2 separate regions of the Homo sapiens genome follow, and region 1 is linked to region 2. Evidence: fine-mapped expression QTL. A gene starts in region 2. The other region holds a variant in brackets. All regions are shown on one strand. Distances are from middle to middle. Region 1 overlaps ZNF624 (zinc finger protein 624). Region 2 holds the start of ZNF624 (zinc finger protein 624).

The links. PIP is the estimated chance that this variant, and not a neighbour inherited with it, causes the effect. A credible set is the group of variants that fine-mapping cannot tell apart.
Region 1: its variant is the best candidate, but not a certain one, in a credible set for the expression of ZNF624 in monocytes after Pam3CSK4 (Quach 2016, PIP 0.51).

Annotation. Positions count from the first base shown.
Region 1 is chr17:16,627,916-16,630,829 of GRCh38, reverse strand. The region is part of intron 5 of ZNF624 (zinc finger protein 624); the gene reads left to right. Among named protein-coding and RNA genes, the nearest start is that of ZNF624, 24 kb to the left of the region's middle. The variant TTTG/G (reference allele first, on the strand shown) is at 1,630.
Region 2 is chr17:16,652,094-16,655,007 of GRCh38, reverse strand. ZNF624 (zinc finger protein 624) reads left to right here and starts at 1,158. Exons shown (of 6, transcript NM_020787.4): 1 at 1,158-1,244. It overlaps LOC124903934 (a long non-coding RNA gene), which reads right to left and starts at 1,116. Exons shown (of 4, transcript XR_007065639.1): 1 at 1,038-1,116; 2 at 1-924. RefSeq lists a silencer at 1,249-1,448 and an enhancer at 1,404-1,914.

The sequences.
Region 1 (2,914 bases), 24 kb after region 2:
TCTGTATTTGAAGCTGTGTTATTATGTAAATACAAAGTTATAATTGTTATCTGTATGGTAAATTGGCTTTTGTCGTTATGAAGTATCTCATTTCTTAAAAGTTTTTGCCTTAAAATCTGTTTTGTCTGATACTAATATTACTACAGCATCTTTCTTTTGGTTGTTATTTGTATAGTATATCTTTTTTCATCTGCTAACTTTCACTTTCTGTGTATTCTTGTACTTTTTGTCTTTATTTTTAAGGTAGTATATTGTTAATTTTTTATTTTTTTGAGACTGAGTTTCACTCTCGTCGCCCAGGCTGGAGTGCAATGGCGTGATCTCGGCTCACTGCAAACTCTGCCTCCCAGGTTCAAGCGATTCTACTCGCTCAGCCTCTTCAGTAGCTGGGATTACAGGCATGCACCACCATGCCCAGCTAATTTTTGTATTTTCAGTAGAGATGGGGTTTCACCATGTTGGCTAGGTTGGTCTGGATCTCTTGATCTCAGGTGATCCACCCACCTCGGCCTCCCAAAGCGCTGGGATTACAAGCAATAGCCACCACGCACAGCCTCTTCTCTTTTTTTTTTCTAAAAATATCTTCATTTGGCCTTCATTTTGGGAGGATATTTTTGGTAAGTTTGAAATTTTAGATTGGCAGTTATATTCTTTCAACATTTCAAAGGTATCATTTATTGTTTTCTGTCTTATGTACAATCTGTGGAGAAGTGAACCATCTGTCTAAACTTTTCTATAAAAGGCAGGGCAGCAATATTTTTGGCTTTGTTGGATCATAAGGACTCTCTGCTGTGACTACTCCACTCTGCCATTGTAGCACCAAGGAATCCATAGGCAACATATTAACCAAGTAATGTGGTTGTGCTCCACTAAAACTTCACTTATGGACTCTGAAATTTGAATTTCATACATTTTTAATGTCTCACATTCTTTTAATATATTTTTCAACCATTTTAAATGTAAAAATTGGCCAGGCGTGGTGACTCATGCTTGTAATCCCAGCACTTTGGTAGGCCAAGGCAGGCACTGGAGGCCAGGAGTTTGAGACCAGCCTGGGCAACATGGTGAAACCCCGTCTCTACTAAAAATACAAATTTTAGCTAGGCATGGTGGCACTGGCCTGTAATCCCAGCTACTCGGAAGGCAGAGGCACAAGAATCACTTGAACCCAGGAGGCGGAGGTTGCAATGAGCTGAGATTGCCCACTGCACTCCAGCCTGGGTAACAGAGTGAGACTCGGTCTCAAAATAAGTAAGTAAGTAAGTAAATAAATAAATAAAAATAAATATAAAAATCATTCTTATCTTGCTGGCTATACAGAAACAGATGATGGGCCAAATTGGTTATAATTTGTAACCTCTGATCTAATTGTTGCTCATTAAAGGACATCTATCTGTCTTTGGCCAGGTGTTGGGAGGCTGAGGTGGGTGGATCATTTGGGGTCAGGCGTTCAAGACCAGCATGGGAAACATGGCAAAACCCCATCTCTACTAAAAATACAAAAATTAGCCGGGCGTTGTGGCACAGACTTGTAATCCAATCCACTGCACTCCAGCCTGGGTGACAGAGCAAGACACTGTTTAAAAAAAAAAAGAGAGAGAGACAGATTTTTTTTTTTTTTTTTTTTTT[TTTG/G]AGATGGAGTCTCGCTCTGTCGCCCAGGCTGGAGTGCAGTGACGTGATCTCGGCTCACTGCAACCTCTGCCTCCTGGTTTCAGGTAATTCTCCTGCCTCAGCCTCCTGAGTAGCTGCGACTACAGGCACCTGCCACCACGCTCAGCTAATTTTTGTATTTTTAGTAGAGATGGGGTCTCGCCACATTGGCCAGGCTGGTCTCGAACTCTGACCTCAGGGGATCTGCCCATCTTGGCTTCCCAAAGTGCTGGGATTACAGGTGTGAGCCACTGTGCCCTTCCCTGTCTCTCTTTTTTTGGCTGCTTTTAAGAGTTTAGTTTTCAACGGTTTTACTACTGTGTACTTTAATATAGTTTTCTTCATATTTCTCATGCTGAAGATTCATTTGGCTTCTAAGACTTGTGACTTGATTTTTTTTTTTTATCTCTTGTGGAAAATTCTAAGACATTATTTCTTTGACTTAGCTTCTGTCCATTCTCTCTCACTTCTCTTTGTAACCTTCTAGGACTCTGGTTACATCTGTGATAGACCTTTTCACCCTATCCTGGATGTCTCTTCTGCTTTTCTAACGTTTGCAAGTTTTTCATCATTTTGTGTTTCAGTATGGATACTTTGTACTGACCTATCTTCCATTTCCCTAACTCTCTCATGTGCTGTCTCTATTGTGCTCTTAGCCCATAGTTTGAGTTAAGTTACTATATTTATTTTTCAGTTCTAGAATTTTCATTTGGTTATTTTATACTTTACAAATCTTTGTGAGATTGTTAATCTTATGTTCTTGAATATAGTTATCCTAGTTATTTTAAAGTTTATGTCTGAGGCCTCAATTATTTGGATTCATTTTAGATCTGTTTCTGTATATTTGTTTTCTCTCTTGATTTTTTTCCCATGTGACTTTTGATTTTTGTCTCCCTTTTTTTTGGGGTCGGGGGAGGCAGACAGAGTCTCGCTCTTTTACCCAGGCTGGAGTGCAGTGGCGCAATCTCAGTTCACTGCAACCTCCACCTCCCAAGTTCAAGTGATTCTCCTGCTTCAGCCTCCTGAGTAGCTGGGACTACAGGCATGCACCACCATGCCTGGCCAATTTTTTTGTATTTTTTAGTAGAGATGGGGTTTTGCCATGTTGCCCAGTCTGGTCTCGAACTCCTGGCCTCAGGTGATCTGCCCTTGTTGGCCTTTCAAAGTGCTGGGATTACAAGATGTGAGCCACTATGCCCAGCGTGGTCTCCTTTTATGCCTGTTATTTTTTACTGGGTATCAGGCATTGACTATGAAAATCTAT
Region 2 (2,914 bases):
CTTAAACATTTTAAATGTAATAATTTTAAATTTTTAATCAAATGAGCTCTGCCTCTGAAGTTTTGGGGGATATATTTCTGCCGTTTATTGTTTGTGCTGATTTTCAGTCACAGTGTCTTATTTTATTATTTGTTTTGTAATGTTTAAGTTTTGGACTTCTGTTTGGCTCATCTTCATCTGTGGGGAATGTGAGGGAACTGGGATCTCCAAAAGACATTTGCTTAGTTTCTAATTTCAGAGTGTATTGAATAAATATTTTGAGTAATCTTTTTCACTGGAAATTTCGTTTTATTCCAGTCCTCCTGTGAATATCCTGTTGTTTTGATTACTCTTCAATGCCACTCTCCTTAGAAGATGTACCTCATTCCGTGTGCATTTCGATATGTGGAAGTGTGTTGGGAGGTGGGGTCCCAAATTATTCATTCATTCTTCCTTCGTTTCATTCAGTATGCAAGCAGTCTCCTAAGTAGGCACTCTGAGTGATAAACTCCATGAGATGTAGTTTCTATCCTCAAAAAATACCGCCTTTGGTAGGGATAAAGTAAATAGACCTTAATATAGCTCTTGGACGAGCAGCCCTTGAATAAGTGGTCAAATAAATTTGTTGCAAATAAATACTTTCAGTCATTGTGTTTTAAGAATTATCATTTGTATGCATTGAGGAGAACTTCTACAGCTATTTGTCTTCAGAAAGGTTTTTTCTTTGTATTTCGAAGAATTTTGGCCTTAAAATTTCCAGCTTATTTTCAGACATTCATATCCATTCTACTTAATTGGCATTATAGTCATCAATTGTTGTCTCTTCCAACTCTGAGGGAATTGTCATAAAGGGAATTGTTCAGAAATATGTGTTTCCAAGCACTTGTTCACATATTTGTCTGGATCACATCTATCTGTTCTCTCGACGGCTTTCTTTAGTCGCACCTAAATGTTCCAAGACAAGGGTTGTGTCATTATTTGTATCTCTAGTGCTATTGCTTTTGACACATAGTCAAGGCTTCTCAACAGAAGTGTATCCAATTGGAATTTTTTCTCACCCTCGAAGAGCCAATTCCTTCACTAACGCAGACAAAAGGGGCGGGGGGCTCAGGCGCTGAGGATTCTGGGCACTGTAGTTCCGACGCTCCGGCTGCGCAGGCGCAATGCCCTGCCTGGAGGCCGGCACCGCCGAGCCGCCGCCATTGCTGGAAGCGTTCCCGCCCTGCTCTGCGAGTTCCCTCAGTTGTCCTCAGTTCGGCCGCCAGGTACTCGTTGTCCCGGGCGCCTGGCCTCGGTTGCCCGCCGCCCCTCCCTTGGCGCTTGGCTCCCGGCGGCGTCCGGGGCGTGGCCGTTCCCTCTAGAGCCCCTGTCCCTGAGCGGACCCGCCCACTCCTGAGAGGCGATTGGGGCTGGGCCTCCTTCCCGAGTGTGGGTTCAGTCTCCAGCTGGCCTCCCTCACAGGTAGGGCCGCGTGCCCTATGCGGCCTCCTAGTCCGGGTCCAAACCCGGGAACCCCCTCCCTGCGGGCCTGGCGGCGCTGGGGTTAAAAAGAGCCGGGCGCAGGGCGCAGGGAGTCGAGTAGGGCGGGCGGGCCCCTGACCCGACTTTCCCGGTCTTCCCAGCCCCGCGCCTTGCAGGCCCTGAGGAGGGCATACCCGAAGTGGGTAGAGGAGAGCAGTTAGGGAAAGAAGGCGAGGTTGGCAGGAGCATATCCGCTCTGGCTTCTGAACTGGCAGGGATGGAACTAGGTTCCACATCGGGGGACCTGCGCTACTCAGTAACCGAGGCAGCTTTTCCTGAAATGTCACATTTCAAATACTGTAATCACCTTTTAATCACTTGTCACTCCCTGACATGACAATGGTATTATTGCATTGGTTGGGAAATGCTGGACTGGTACATGGCGCTGAGATTCTCAGCAAAAACATGGACCCTTCATTATTTCTAAATAACTGCACTGGCCAAGGAAGCAAAACAAGTAAAGTTTCTCCTTAAGTCTCTGGATACGTTTGCAATAGTTGGAAAGACAGAGCTTGTAAATAGGGAAATTATAACTGGGGAATAGTGGCCTAGATATCTTCTGCATAATGACAAAGGGGACAGTAGAAACATATAAGGTGGCTACTGTCATGTACTAATAGCTGATTCGTTGTGCTCAAGTGACTTGCCTGTGGTCACAGTTTTACGGTAGCCAAAGCAGGGTTAGAACCTGGGGATGTGGCCAGCCACTCTGGGATTTTATTCCTATTCCACACTCCTATGTATAGGTAGATACTTCTTCTTGTCTGCTTGGAGAGTACAGAAAAGCAGAAAGAAGGGTAAACATCACAGCCCCAGGTCTCAGAGGTCTCAGTAGAGTTTTGGGTTACTCAGTCTTTTTTTCTATGCATTACATTTGCACAATTGAGATCAAGCTGAATATATTAAATGTTAAATATTGTTTATTCTAATTATAAAATAAAACAAGGGATTTATTGTAGTTTGGTTGTTAAACATATGTTACGAGCATAATCTACATAATCTACATAAAGTATTGCCAAAGAGTTTATTAATATTTACAAATATTTTAAAAATGATGACTCAGCTCACTCTTGATAAATGTTAAAGATGCAGAAAACCATTACTCTAGACCTTCGGAATTGAAAATGCCTTATGTTGCTCTTTGTAGGTCTGCTTTAGTGTTCGGGGGTTGCGGGATGGGGCAATATTCTTGGCTCATTTTTTTTCTTTGCAACCTTGTAAAACTTGGGGGTCAGTGTATGGGCTTGGGAGGGAGAGTCAGTTTTCAAGCTCTCTGAAGTAATATGCAACATCATATATGCATGTGCATTATTTTGTGGACAAGGTCAGATTCTCAGATGGGTCCGTACCCCCCCAAAAATTAAGATTTACTGGTATGCATAGATTGTGTAGTGGTGAGATCAGGGCTTTCAGG